Linked DNA regions of Homo sapiens. The protein of the gene in region 4 interacts with the protein of the main gene of each other region in a pairwise test. Each region holds a gene or a part of one and is shown on either strand. Other genes may lie near its edges.

Region 1 (3,500 bases), on a different chromosome or scaffold from region 4:
TACCCCTCATGCCTGCCATAGACCCCTGGGACCCTCCCCCTCTCCCAGGAGGAGCTCCAAGTCACCAAAGGGGCCCTTTCCTCACCCACGGAGCAGAAGCACCCCCAGAGGCAGGCAGCACTCCAGGCCCATCCCACACATGGATGCCCTCACCTCCATCCGGAACAGGGGATTGCCCCCTAGGCGGCTCCAGGGCTCCTGACCCTTGTGGAGGCCAGACTGTGAATCCAGGGCAGATGAGGGACCAAAGAGCAGGTGGTAGACCTAGGAGGTGTGGGGGAATGGCTCAGATGGGGTGTGGGGGGCGTGGCTCAGATGGTGGGGGCGTGGCTCCGATGGACGTGTGGGGGCGTGGCTTAGATGGTGGGGGCGTGGCTCAGAGAGTGGGGGCGTGGCTCAGATGGTGGGGGCGTGGCTCCGATGTAGGTGTGGGGGCGTGGCTCAGATGGTGGGGGCATGGCTCAGAGAGTGGGGGCGTGGCTCAGATGGTGGGGGCAAGGTTCAGACGGTCTGGGCGTGACTCAGGCTGAGCATCCTGAGGATGGCTCAGCAACCAGGGGGCGTGGCTGGGGCAGAAGGGAGTGGCCAGGGCTGGGAGCTGTCCCTGCCTTACCTCGGGCGGGTCCACACGGGCGGCCAAGAGTGCTTGGGCCGTGCTATTGGGCAGCGACAAGTTTTGCGTCAGGAAACGCCAGAGCTCCTGCGGGTTTCTGGCCACCGAGTCCAGAGAGAAGGAAGACACTGGACAGGCAGGAAGGCGAGGCTGAGAGGCCGCTGCACCTTGGCAAGGTGCCCCCACATGCGCTCGGAGCCGAGCCCAACACCACAGCTCTGCCACTGCAGCCTGTGCGTGGCTGGGAACTCAGTGCAGGTGGAGGGGCCCAGAGTGGATGTGGGCTTCAGCCCAGTGACAGCAGAGCTTTGCCCGCAGCCCTGCCCCCCAACTTCCCTGCACAGGGCACACCTGTGGATCTGTCCAGGTGGCTCCCCGAGGTGCCCGGGCCCGCACTGAGGGCCTCCAGATGCTGGCGTAGGGCCTCGAGCTCTGAGCCCAGGCTGGGCCGCGCTGGGTCAAACAGGTTGCCTTCCTCCACCACGCGGTCCAGGCGCTCAAGCAGCTGCGTGACCCTGCACCATGGCGGATGTCACTCACTGGATGGGCTGGGGAGGGGTGGGTGCTCCGAGGGGCGGGTGGGCACTCACGTGGAGTTGGCGTACTGCAGGAAGCCGAACTCGTCTCGCTGGCCGTCCGGGCACAGCGATTGCATGACAGGCAGGATGCCGGCAGACGTCAGGGGCGCCGCTGTGTAGAAGGCTGGCAGACCCACGGGAGAGGGCAGGGTCGGGGGTGAAAGGGGAGAGAGAGAGAGAGGAATCCAGAAGGGGAGGGAGACAGAGGCCGAGAGGAGAAATTTAGAGAAAGTCAGGAAGGAGAAGCAGCGTTAGGGAGAAGGCGGCACAGAGCCCTGGCCCCAGCTGGGCTACAGGCCAAGCGTTCTGGGGCGAATGACTCCAGCAGGTCAGAGGTCAAAGAGCCACTCACCACCCCTTCTGCCATAACTCCCAGAGCATTCCTTTCCTTTCAGCCAGTGCAGGCCCACATGCCCTGGCACTCTCCCCCCGAAAACGTTTCAGGTGTGGCACTGCCTACAGAGCCCAGGGGAGGACAAAGGACCCCCTCTGGGCAGTGACCTCTGACCTCTGGCCAGCTGGTTAGCAGAGTGAGTGCAAGAGCCTGAAGGAGTATGAAGGGAGAGTAGCCAGGCCGCTCCAGCCCCAGCCCAGGCCAGCCCAGCCTCAGCCCAGACTCAGCCCAGAAGCCGAGGCACCCCAGCCCTAGAAGGCAAGGCCAGGCAGAGAGATGCCGCCTCAGCTTGACCCAGGCACCAGCTGTGCCTTTAGGTGGCCGGGCCTTTCACTCCCTACCACCTCCCACTTCACTGCCTGCCACCCCCCATCTGGAGCCAGCTGTTCCTGAGGCCGGCAGGGGGCCCGGGAGGGCTGTTAATGCAAGCGGGGAGGGCGCTCAAGCCAGGACGGCCCATGGGCCCCCCGCAGCTGCTGCCCAGGCCAGCCAGGAGGAGGTGGCCGCTCACTTACAGACTGCATGCCAGCCGAGGACAAGAGACCATGCGGGGAGGGAGGGGGATCAAAACAGAACAGAGGAGACCAGTGAGTGCCCACATCACCAGGAAGAGGCGTTGGCATCATCATTCGCGGCCACAGGCCAGCCCCGACCTCCACAGCCCAGCCAGGAGGCACGGCCCAGGACCACACAGGGGAGCAGGCACCGCACCTCAGGGACTCCGGGAGCAGGACACCCGTGTGCAGATGTGCACACACAGCGCAGGCGTGCGAGGTGCCGCGCTCCCCCGGCTGTGCCTGGGGCCTCCTGCCGCACTCACCTTCCTTCACGGAGATGGTGGGCTTCTTCTGTCGCAGCCCCAGCAGGATAAAGAACAGCACCAGGGGGATGAAGATCTCGAAGGCCAGGACCCACTGGAAAGGGTGGGCCCAGTGAGGGATAGGACAGACCTGTGCTCGCCTAGGCCCTCCCCAGCCTCCCATAGGGCTGGCCCAGCCCAGACAGGACCACGTGCTCCCTGGGGCCAGGGAAGGTGGGCACAGGCCCTTCGGAACCACTGAAGGTCTGAGCCCCTTCCAGGGCACTGAGGGTAAGGATTGTCTGGCTCAGCAAATCAGGTTTCCCGTCCCCAGCCCACACTGGGCCTACGTGCCCTCTGAGGAGCCTCAGGGCCTACAGGGACAAATCGGCCAGCTTGTGGTCTACTCTGACCCATGTATATCCCAGCTCATCTTCTCCCTCCCCACCTCCAGGGCTACCTGGGCAAAATCTTGGGGACCATCTGAGCCACTAGCCCCGCCTACACTTCCCACACTGCCCCGGGTTCACCTTCCTCCCACTTCCTCCCCACCAATACCGGGGCCTGGGGAGATGAGGAGGCCTGGTTGAGAGGCTTGGCCTGCGCCCAGGGCCCTGAGCCTCGGAGAAGACCTGGTAAGGGGTCTAACAGCCCCAGTCCCTGAAGCAAAGGCACCTTTTTTTTTTTTTTTTTTTGAGACGGAGTCTCACTCTGTCACCCAGGCTGGAGCACAGTGGTGCGATCTCAGCTCACTGCAAGCTCCGTCCCCCAAGTTCACACCATTCTCTTGCCTCAGCCTCTCGAGTAGCTGGGACTACAGGCGCCCGCCACCATGCCCAGCTAATTTTTTGTATTTTTAGTAGAGACGGGGTTTCACCGTGTTAGCCAGGATGGTGTCGATCTCCTGACCTCGTGATCCGCCCACCTGGGCGTGAGCCACCACACCTGGCCCAAAGGCACCTCTTTCTGCCCTGTCCCCTCTCCTGACCCGGGGCAGCCAGTCTTGGGCCTTGGAGCTCAGTTTCCCCAGGTCGGCTCCTGCTAACCCAGGCTGGGCACCAAGGTGAGCCCTAGTGGGACCTGCGTGGAGTGAGAAAGAGGTGCTTTGCTCACTTC
Region 2 (3,500 bases), on a different chromosome or scaffold from region 4:
CCAGCTAATTTTTGTACTTTTTTAGTAGAGGCAGGGTTTCACCACGTTGGCCAGGCTGGTCTCGAACTCCTGACCTAAGGTGATCCGCCTGCCTCGGCCTCCCAAAGTTCTGGGATTACAGGCATGAGCCACCACGCACAGCCCATTAGAACCTTTCAAACATGTCAGCCGCATTCACCCCCCAGCCCCACCCCCTCATTTACAATCCTTCCTTGGCTCCTCGTTGCCAACTGGATGATGTCCTAGCCCCCTGCTATGGTGCCTCAAGCCCTGAGGGCTCTGTCTGGCTCTGGCTCTCCGCGTCTCCTTTCTATGCCCTTCAAGTTCCACTTTCTATTCCTGGAACACACCAAGGTCCTCTCACCTCTGCCTGTACTGCCCCTGCTAAACCTTGATGTGCATTTTGCTTTTCTCCCCACCGCCTCCCTCCCTCTCGGGGATGGAGCAATCCACCCATCCAGACCTTTCCATGCTGGCCCGTCCACGTCATTCTGTCATTCTCTCTGACCTGTTCGGTGGCTCTCCCTGCCCTCTGCTCCAGCTATGGCCTCTTGGCTGATTCTAGAGTGCTGTGCCTCTGTCAGAGCACACTTCTCTCAGGCCCAGCTCGTCCCTCCCCTCCTTCAAATCCCCTTTCACATCCTTTTCCCAGTGGGGCCTCCGAGAGTATCACATCCACTGCTGCACTTCCTCCTCCTTCCCCTACCTTATTTCTCCCCAAGTAGCCTTGGACAACTTTCATCATCTACTTTTAAAATCCGAATTACTGTCTGTCCCTGTCCCAGAACTGTAAGCTCCATGAGGGATTTCTGCGGCTTGTTCTCCTCTGGATCCCCTATGCTTGGCACATGGCATACTTTTTGTTGTTATTGTTTTTGAGACAGGGTCTTACTCTGTTGCCCAGTCTGGAGTGCAGTGCAGTGATCCAGTCCTAGCTCACTGCAGCCTCGATCTCTCAGGCTCAAGCGATCCTCACACCTCAGCCTCCTGAGTAGCTGGGACCACAGGTGCATTACACCATGCCAGGCTAATTTTTAAAATATTTTGTAGGGATGGGATCTCGCTGTGTCTCCCAGGCCAGTTTTGAACTCCTAGCCTCAAGTGGGCCTTCTCCCTCAGCCTTCCAAAGCACCAAGACTGTAGGTGTGAGCCACCGCACCTCGCAAAGAAATACCCTTTTTTGTTTTTTTTTTTTTGGAGACTGAGTTTCGCTCTGTCACCCAGGCTGGAGTGCTGTGGCACAATCTCGGCTCACTGCAACCTCCACCTCCCGGGTTCAAACAATTCTTCTGCCCCAGCCTCCCAAGTATCTGGGACTACAGGCACATGCTGCCACGCCCGGCTAATTTTTTTTTTTTAGACAGAGTCTTGCTCTGTCACCAGGCTGGAGTGCAGTGGCACAATCTCGGCTCACTGGAACCCCTGACTCGCTGGTTCAAGCGATTCTTCTGCCTCAGCCTTCCCAAGTAGCTAGGATTACATGCACCACAATGCCCAGCTAATTTTTTGTATTTTTAGTAGAGACGGGGTTTCACCATGTTGGCCAGGATGGTCTCGATCTTCTGACCTCGTGATCCGCCTGCCTCAGCCTGCCAAAGTGCTGGGATTACAGGCGTGGCCACTGTGCCCGGCCTAATATTTTGTATTTTAGTAGAGATGGGGTTTCACCGTGTTGCCCAGGCTGGTCTCGAACTCCTGAGCTCAGGCAATCCACCCACCTCAACCTTCCAAAGTGATTATAGGTGTGAGCCACTGTGCCCGGCAAGAAATACCTTTTGAATGAATGAAATGAGCTGTATTATCTCCATTTTATAAATGAGGAAACCAAGGCTCGATGAGAAGGGCCCTGCCCGAGGTCACATAGGGAGTTGGTTGCAGAGCAAAGATTTGATTTTGCCATTGGCCCTCTGGTGCCTCCCTGAGGGTGCCTCTCAGCTCAGTGACTCCTGACTCCCACCTGTGCCCTGAGGCTTAGGGGAGGCAGTGCCCACAGGCACAGGGACTTTTTTTTTTTTTCTTGATAGAGTCTTGCTCTGTCACCCAGGCTGGAGTGCAGTAGCATGATCTCAGCTCACTGCAACCTTCGCTGCCTAGGCTCAAGCAATTCTCCTGCCTCAGCCTCCTGAGTAGCTGGGATTACAGGCCCATGCCACCACACCTGGCTAAGTTTTTTGGTTTTGGTTTTGGTTTTGGTTTGGTTTTGGGTTTTTTTTTTTTTTTTTTTTTTGAGATGGAGTCTCACTCTGTCGCCAGGCTGGAGTGCAGTGGTGAGATCTCGGCTCGCTGCAACCTCTGCCTCCCGGGTTCAAGCGATTCTCCTGCCTCAGCCTCCCAAGTAGCTGGGACTACAAGCGCCTGCCACCACGCCCAGCTAATTTTTGTATTTTTAGTAGAGACAGGGTTTCACCATGCTGGCTAGGATGGTCTCGATCTCTTAACCTTGTGATCCGCCCTCCTTGGCCTTCCAAAGTGCTGGAATTACGGGCATGAGCCACCGCGCCCGGCCTAATTTTTGTATTTTTTAGTAGGGACAGGGTTTTGCCATGTTCAGGCTGGTCTCAAATCCCTGGCCTCAAGTGATCTGCCTACCTTGGCCTCCCAAAGTGCTGGGATTATAGATGTGAGCCGCTGCGCCCGGCCACGGGGACTTTTTTTTTGGGGTAGTTAGGATTGGTCTTAGGCAAAGAACCCTTCCCCCCCAATACACGTGCTGAGAAGTTATCCCTTCCTGTCCACCCAGGTTCCCAGTCCCAGCTCTACCCATTTGCCTTGTAACCTGGAAAAGCATCTTTACTAACGTGTGCCTCAGTTTCCTTATGTGTAAGGTGGGGGTAATAGCAGTTCCCATCCCATGGGCTGTCATGAGCACTGGATGAGGTGGCACATGGACCCCACCTGGCATGGAGTTGGGGAGCCACACCCTAACTCCCCACCCCAGAGCCTTCTCAAGTATTTTTGGCTCTTGTTTGCTCCCTTCTGGCACTGGAGGAGCATGAACCTTCCTGATCTGTGCGCCCTGCCCTGGCCCAGAGCTGGTGTAAATAAATGCTTAACCCAGCTCATCTTCCAGAACCCTGAAGCGGGGATGAGTACTTCCCTTCCTTAGATGAGGACACTGAGGCCAGAGGGTGAGTAACCAGCTCGAGGTCACAGTGCCGGTCCCTGCTGAGGCTGGCCTTGCACATGGGGCTGTCTAGTGACCAGCCTTGTTCTCCAGAGAAGGGAGGTGCAGCCAGCCTCGGCCATGTGGAAACATTTCTTCAGAGCCTGGGGCAGTCTTAGTGGTAGCCCTGGGCCTACAGAGTGGACGCTGGTGGGGACTCTGGCCTCCCTGGGGCCCACCTACCTGCTGGAAAGCCAGGCCAAGGCTGGCAGGGGGCTCACATCCCTTATCTCTGCTTTTCCATGAGAGGGAAGCAGGCAGGGGTCATTCATTACTTCTCTGTCCTTTAGTCCAGGAAATAGGCTCAGAGAGGTCAGGTGACTTGCCCATGGTCACA
Region 3 (3,500 bases), on a different chromosome or scaffold from region 4:
CTGGGAATTCTATGGCCTGGTGCCCCGTCGCACCCAGCCCTTTACAAGCAGCACAAACGTATTTGGTTGTCTGGGGCCTGGACAAGCCCCAGCATTTTCCAGGCAGCTCCTGAGGAAGCCTGGCATAAGACAGGGCTTTATCCCCAGCCTGGGGCTTCTAGGTCAGGAATATAATCAGCACAGCATCCCACTGGCCCTCCTCCTGCTGGCCCCGCCCCGACTGCTTGGCTACGATCACCCACGACCCTCGTGGCACCCAACACCCTTCTGCATTCCTCTTTCGTGCGCACTGTAAGCATCTGCCAATGTCGACTGCCCTCTTCTTCAGCCATGGGGTTTGGCCCACACTGTCTCCCAGTGTTTAGCCTTCCTGATCAACCCCCAAAGACAGGTGCTCTCCCAGGCTGTTCCTCAGCTCTCAGCTCCTCTTGCTCCTAATTCTACATTTATTTATTTATTTATTTAGGAGACAGGGTCTCCTGTCACCCAGGCTGGAGTGCAGTGGTACAGTCATGGCTCACTGCAGCTTCAAACCCTTGGACCCAAGTGATCCTCCCATCTCAGCCTCCCGGGTAGCTGGAACTACAAGCACATGCCACCACATCCAGCTAATTAAAAAAAAAAATTTTTTTTTTTTAGAGACAGGATCTCACTATGTTTCCCAGGCTGGTCTCAAGCAATCCTCCAGCCTTGGCCTCCCAAAGCGGGTAGGATTATCAGCGTGAAGCCACCGTGCCTGACCTCTTTCTGCCTGTCCTGGTCCACACCACATCTTCAGCTGACAATGCCCCATTCCATGTCCCCACCACTGACCTGGCTGCTGAGACCTGGGCTTGCAAATGTTTAAGTCAGTACAGTGGCTACGAGCCACATGGAGCTATGTCAGTTAAACAAAATGAAACATCCAGTTCTCGGCCAAGGAGCCACATTTTAAGTGCTCACGTGACTAGCAGCTGCCATACTAGACAGCACAGCTCTTAGCACCTTGCACCACAGCTGAAGGTTCTGCTGGGCAGCGCTGGTCTAGACCCACATATGCAATCATCTGCTGAACACCTCCTCTTTGCTCTGCGCTAAGACTTTTTTTTTTTTTTTTTTTTGAGACAGAGTTTTGCTCTTGTCACCCAGGCAGGAGTACAATGGTACAATCTTGGCTCGCTGCAACCTCCGCCTCCTGGGTTCAAGCAATTCTCCTGCCTCAGCCTCCAAAGTAGCTGGGATTACAGGTGCCCACCACCACGCCCAGCTAATTTTTGTATTTTTAGTAGAGATGGGGTTTTGCCATGTTTGTCAGGCTGGTCTCGAACTCCTAACCTCAAAGCGATCCACCCGCCTCGGCCTCCTAAAGTGCTGGGATTACAGGTGTGAGCCACCGCACCAGGCTGCTCTGCCCTAAGGCTTTTAAGCCCCCAATTAACTCATATCCTTCTCCCCCGTCCTTACCACATTAGCTTCTCCTCCTGTGGCTTGCAGCTTGGTGAAAGCTATGCATGCCATCACGCGGGGTCCCGGGCCAGAAGCCTGCAAGCCACTTGGATGCCACCTTCCTTGCACCCGCCACATCTCATCCATCGCCAGCCCCCTGCAGGTCTCCTCTCCTCTCCATCACTTCTTCCCCAGCCCTGGCTGGTTTTCTGCCTCCCATCTGTCTCCCACGCTGCTTCCAGAGGCAGCTCTGAAAAACGCAAATCTGAATGCCACCCCTGGCTCCAAGGGCTTCCTATGCCAGTAAAGGAGGGAGTAAGCCCTGAGCGTTTCCATCTGGCCCTTCCCCACCCCGCGTGAGTCCCTTTCAGTCCAGCTCCCTGGAGCTACTCAGTCCCTAACAGATCACACTTGAGGTCTCGTCCTCTGGCACCCGCTCTTTCCTCTGTCTGGATGCCTGTTTCTCCTCCACCTTCTCCATCCGTGTATTCTCCAGAGCTCAGCCTGAGGCCACCTCCTCCGGGAAGTTGCCCAGACCTGGGTGTGCTGTAGGTGCCCCTCCCCCAGCATCCGGACGAACCGGTCTACAGTCCTTGGTTTCCTCGTCCTGTCCCCAAGACTCCAAGCCCCTGGGAAATGGGAGCCCCATCTCATTTCTCAGGCATCACCAGCATCCGGTGTCTAACTCTCAACAGGGCTCCAATGCTCTCCTCACCTTCAATCAATCCCAAGTACAGAGCCATCGTCCAAAGATGACATGCCTCAGCCACAAGCCTGTCCAAATCTCTCTCTAATTCCAGCTGGGGACACAGAGATCCAAGGTACATCACTGTCACCAGAGTGCTGACTCCTGGTGTGGCCATGTAGCCATCTTCCCTAGAAACGCTCCTCTTATCTGCACTCAGAAAGTCTATTGCTTCAAAGAGATGAAACCACTGCCTCCATTCACCAAGGTTACAAACCACCTACATGTCCAGGAAGACAGTCTAATGAAATACATGGCTGGGTGCAGTGGCTCACGCCTGTAATCCCAGCACTTTGGGAGGCTGAGGCAGGCAGATCACCTGAGGTCAGGAGTTCAAGACCAGCCTGGCCGACATGGTGAAACTTTGTCTCTACTAAAAATACAAAATTTAGCCAGGCATGGCACATGCCTGTAATCCCAGCTACTCGGGAGGCTGAGGCAGGAGAATTGCTTGAACCTGGGAGGCGAGGATGCAGTGAGGTGAAATAGCACCACTGCACTCCAGCCTGGGTGACAGAGTGAAACTCCATCTCAAAAAAAGAAAACAAAAAATTTACAGTGCATCCATCCATATGATGGAAACTAGAAAAACAAGGTGGTTGATGAGAGTGGTGAAATCAGCAATAGGGAGGGATGGGGATTGTGGTAAACCAGTAAACGCGTTCTTTCTAAAGACATTTAAAGAAATAATATGGGCTGGGCACGGTGGCTCACGCCTGTAATCCCATCACTTTGGGAGGCCGAGGCAGGCAGATCACGAGGTCAGGAGATGGAGACCATCCTGGCTAACATGGTGAAACCCCGTCTCTACTAAAAATACAAAAAATTAGCCGGGCGTGGTGGCAGACACCTGTAGTCCCAGCTACTTGGGAGGCTGAGGCAGGAGAATGGCATGAACCTGTCAGGTGGAGCTTGCAGTGAGCCAAGATCATGCCACTGCACTCCAGCCTGGGCGACAGTGCAAGACTCCATCTCAAAAAAAAAAAAAAAGAAAAGAAAAGAAATAATATGGAGGGACTGGGGAGCAGAATCAGCCAGCAGCACCAGTTAGGCGTCTCTGTAAATAGGTGAATATTTACTGACATGGAAAGATGTTTGGGCCGGGCACAGTAGCTCACGCCTGTAATCCCAGCACTCTGGGAGGCCGAGGCAGGCGGATCGCTTGAGGTCAGGAGTTCAATATCATCCTGACCAACATGGTAAAACCCCGTCTCTACTAAAAAGTACAAAAATTAGCTGGGTGTGGTGGCGTGTGCCTAAAATCCCAGCTAGTCGGAAGGCTGAGGCAGGAGAATCGCTTGAACCCAGGAGATGGAGATTGCAGTGAGCT
Region 4 (3,500 bases):
AGCCCTACGCACCCAACAGATGCCTCCCACTCCAAGTCCCTGAAGAAAGACTTCATTCTCAAGGGGCCGCTGCATCCAATCTACTCAAGCACTAACATTTCAGAAACTTTCATTGGTCTGATAATCTCATGGACAGTCTCTCAACCCCCTGCAACTAAAACCCATCAAAATCCTAAAACGTTGGCACAAGGGTAGATCAGATAGATGTTATACAATTTAGTTAATGGGTGAAGACAGGTACCTTTTCTCATTTGCTCAGCAAACGTTTATAGGACGCCTGCTTTGTCCCACACACTGGGGTTGCAGTGGTGAAGAACAGGGTAAAGATCATGGGTCTCACAGCCTCAGAGCTTGACTTTTTCCTGGGGAATGGTAGAACTACCAGGGAGGGGTGGAACCCCACCCAAGAGAACCCCTTCTTTCTCTCTCTCTAGTGCAGGCACATAGCTTTGAATGACATCCTTAATCTTTCTTATTTCTCTGACCGGGATTTAACACTATTACTTCCACTCCTTTCCATAGATCCACATCCTTAATCCTAAGCCATCGAGGCCAGACGTGCTTTGGAATTCAGAACTCAGGGCTTTTAGACGCATTGCAAAGATGGGAATGTAAAATGGTACAACCACTTAGGAAAACAGTTTGAGAGCCTCTTATAAAATTAAACATACACCTACCACACAACTCAGCAATCTCACTCCTGGGTTAATTTACCCAAGAGAAATGAAATGTATGAAATGAAATGTTCCCACTAAAACCCATAAGCCAATGTTTATAGCAGCTCTATTCATAATCATTGAAACTGGAAGCATCCCAATGTCCTTCGGCTGGGAAGCAAACTCTGGTCCATCCATATCATGGAATCCTGCTCAACACCAAAAAGGAAGGCGCTACTGTCACAGGCAACAGCATGAATGAATCTCAAAGTCTGAGTAAAAGAATCCACATTCAAAAGGCTATATACTGTGAAATTACATTTATATGACCTTCGGCAAAAGGCAAAGCTGTAGGGATGGAGAACAGATCAGTGGTTGAAGGGGCTGGAGAAGTGGGGTGCTGACTCAAGAGGGGCACTGTGGGGGTATTTTAGGGTTGATGAAACTGTCCCATATCTTGATTTGGGTGGTGGCCACAACTACATCCATTTGTCAAAGCTTGCAGACCAGTATGTCAAAAGGGTGAATTTTGCTACAAATAAATTATACATCAATAAATCTATTTTTTTTTTGAGACAGAGTCTCAAAAAAAAGTACAGTGGTGCAATCTCGGCTCACTGCAACCTCTGCCTCCCAGGTTCAAATGATTCTCCTGCCAGCCTCCCGAGTAGCTGGGATTATAGACGCACAATACCACGCCTGGCTAATTTTTGTATTTTTAGTAGAGACGGGGTTTCACCATGTTGGCCAGGCTGGTCTCGAACTCCTGACCTCATGATCCACCGGCCTCAGCCTCCCAAAGTGCTGGGATTATAGGCGTGAACCACCAGACCCGGCCCCTATAAACCTGATTTTTAAGGAAAAGAAAAATGATAACAAGATGTCTCTATGATCTAACCTGGATACTCCAACCCTAGCCCATGAACTTACCACATGGGGAATCCCTAGAAGCTAGCTAGAAAAGCAGAATCCCAGACCCCACCCAAATCCTGCTGGACCAGAACCATCCTGTTAACAAGACAACTTCCATACACCTGAAAGTTTGACAGGACTACAATGCAGACCTAACAGTCAGGAGCTGAAGCAGCACCTCATCATCAAGCACATCTAACATTTCTGCTGCAAAACATACTCAAATGCACACCAAGTAGAATGAATGAAAACTGTAAATTAAGACTTCAAACTGAAGTCAGTTCAGGTTAGGTTTTACCTCTATATGAGCTCGTCTTTTGGTTTTTGGAGCTTTTTGGATTGGGGAATTGTGGATAAGAAATTGCACCCTTTTTGAAAATACTCCCATTGGAAAAGCCGTGCTAAATTTTACTTCGCAGAATTTTGCTCCTCTGGAAATACCAGCCAAGCCGGTCTAGTACAAGGATCACGTAAGTGACACCATCCTGCCCTCTACGGCAGTACCTTCTAGAACATTCTATCTCTCAGGACAGGCCAAGAGTCTGATAACCTGCTCCCATGTCTCCCAGCGCTTCTCATGCAGAAAGTTTCTCTTTAGAGAGCTTTTCTTAAAAAAAAAAAAAAAAAAAAAAATGAGAGGAGTGCCAATCAGCCAATGTCCACAGATGTCAAAGTGATGTCACCTGATGTCAATGTGACTTTAGGTGTCTTGTTAAGATTTCTGCAAACCGGATGAAAAGCTGGAATTCTACGTGTAATTCAGGCAACTGTGCGTGATAATACACTGACCTGCTTCCAGTGTTCCTCCGATGGCCTGAGTTTCTACATCATGTTCAGTGGGAGACCTGGTGGCACAGGGAGGGCTGGAAAGATGACATTCACCTTGGCACTTGGTAGAAGGAGTGAGTGGCATTAAGTGGGGAGGGAACTCTAGGAAGGCTGACAGATGCTCCTTTTTGAGCTGACAGATCTGAGCTCTTCGGCAATCATCAGAGACCCTCATGGCCCTATTTGAATCACAATTCCAGTCAATGAAAACATGAAACCAAGGTGTGTGGTCAAGACGGCTTGCTGCCTGGCATGAGAAAAACACGGCAATGTAAATTTGAACATCAAAGACTTCCATTTGGGTTTCCTCACTTAGGAAGAGGGGAAAAAATGAAATAAATGAGGATTCTTAATTGTCATTGATGGCTTCAAGTTTGACCCACTGAGGGATGAAAGAGGAAGAAATCATAGTGACAAATTGCCCCGAGTGTGGAGAAAGCAAGACTGCATCCTTCACCAGTGTACCATGCCAGAATTTACATTTGGAAGTAGCACTCTTAGGCCCTGTGAGCATACCGACAAGTTCATGGATCATTCACTCACTTCTCTTAAACAAGACAGGGAGGAACCTGCTTTCCATATCGACCTGCAACCCTTAGTCAACACCATTTCCAAATACACATCCCACAACACATGCATCAAAAAGTAGCAGGGGCGATTCCACTCCTATCTAAGAGAACTGTGGGAAAAAAATAATAGAAGACACAAGAATGTTCCCAGTGGCACAAACAGAAATGACACAAATGCCCATCAACAGTAGAATGGATAGATTGTAGTAGAGTCACATACACAGATGTGAGCAAAAGAAGCCAGTGGCAAAAGAACGTACTGTGTGACTCCATTTACATGTTTAAAAGAGGCAAAATGAACCTTAGAAGTCAGGTGAGCGGTACCCTTGTTGGGGGAGCAACTAGGAGGCGGTATGGGGAGGGGGACTTCCAGGGCACTGATCGGGACCTGGGTGCTGGATACGTGGGTGTGTTCATTTTGTAAAAATCTATGCATCTGAATATATGTACTTGCCTGTACATATATTAGACTTTATTTAAGTACCTACACACTTTTTTTTTCACTCTCAGGATATGCTGAAACATTTTTTTTTAA

What was found. Proteins that work in one complex are often made in the same cells at the same time.
Region 1: the proteins of CACNA1A (region 4) and ABCA2 interact in a two-hybrid assay, tested with the Homo sapiens proteins (one study listed by BioGRID and IntAct).
Region 2: the proteins of CACNA1A (region 4) and PMM1 interact in a two-hybrid assay, tested with the Homo sapiens proteins (one study listed by BioGRID and IntAct).
Region 3: the proteins of CACNA1A (region 4) and C1QTNF1 interact in a two-hybrid assay, tested with the Homo sapiens proteins (one study listed by BioGRID and IntAct).

What each region holds. Positions count from the first base shown.
Region 1 is NC_000009.12:137,021,738-137,025,237, forward strand, and holds part of ABCA2 (ATP-binding cassette sub-family A member 2), read right to left. Parts: intron 2,500-3,500; coding exon 2,406-2,499; intron 2,104-2,405; coding exon 2,101-2,103; intron 1,316-2,100; coding exon 1,204-1,315; intron 1,129-1,203; coding exon 965-1,128; intron 742-964; coding exon 614-741; intron 265-613; coding exon 154-264; intron 1-153. UniProt on the Homo sapiens protein: Probable lipid transporter that modulates cholesterol sequestration in the late endosome/lysosome by regulating the intracellular sphingolipid metabolism, in turn participates in cholesterol homeostasis.
Region 2 is NC_000022.11:41,579,841-41,583,340, reverse strand, and holds part of PMM1 (phosphomannomutase 1), read left to right. Parts: intron 1-3,500. UniProt on the Homo sapiens protein: Involved in the synthesis of the GDP-mannose and dolichol-phosphate-mannose required for a number of critical mannosyl transfer reactions. In addition, may be responsible for the degradation of glucose-1,6-bisphosphate in ischemic brain.
Region 3 is NC_000017.11:79,030,669-79,034,168, reverse strand, and holds part of C1QTNF1 (complement C1q tumor necrosis factor-related protein 1 isoform 1 precursor), read right to left. Parts: intron 1-3,500.
Region 4 is NC_000019.10:13,499,980-13,503,479, forward strand, and holds part of CACNA1A (voltage-dependent P/Q-type calcium channel subunit alpha-1A), read right to left. Parts: intron 1-3,500.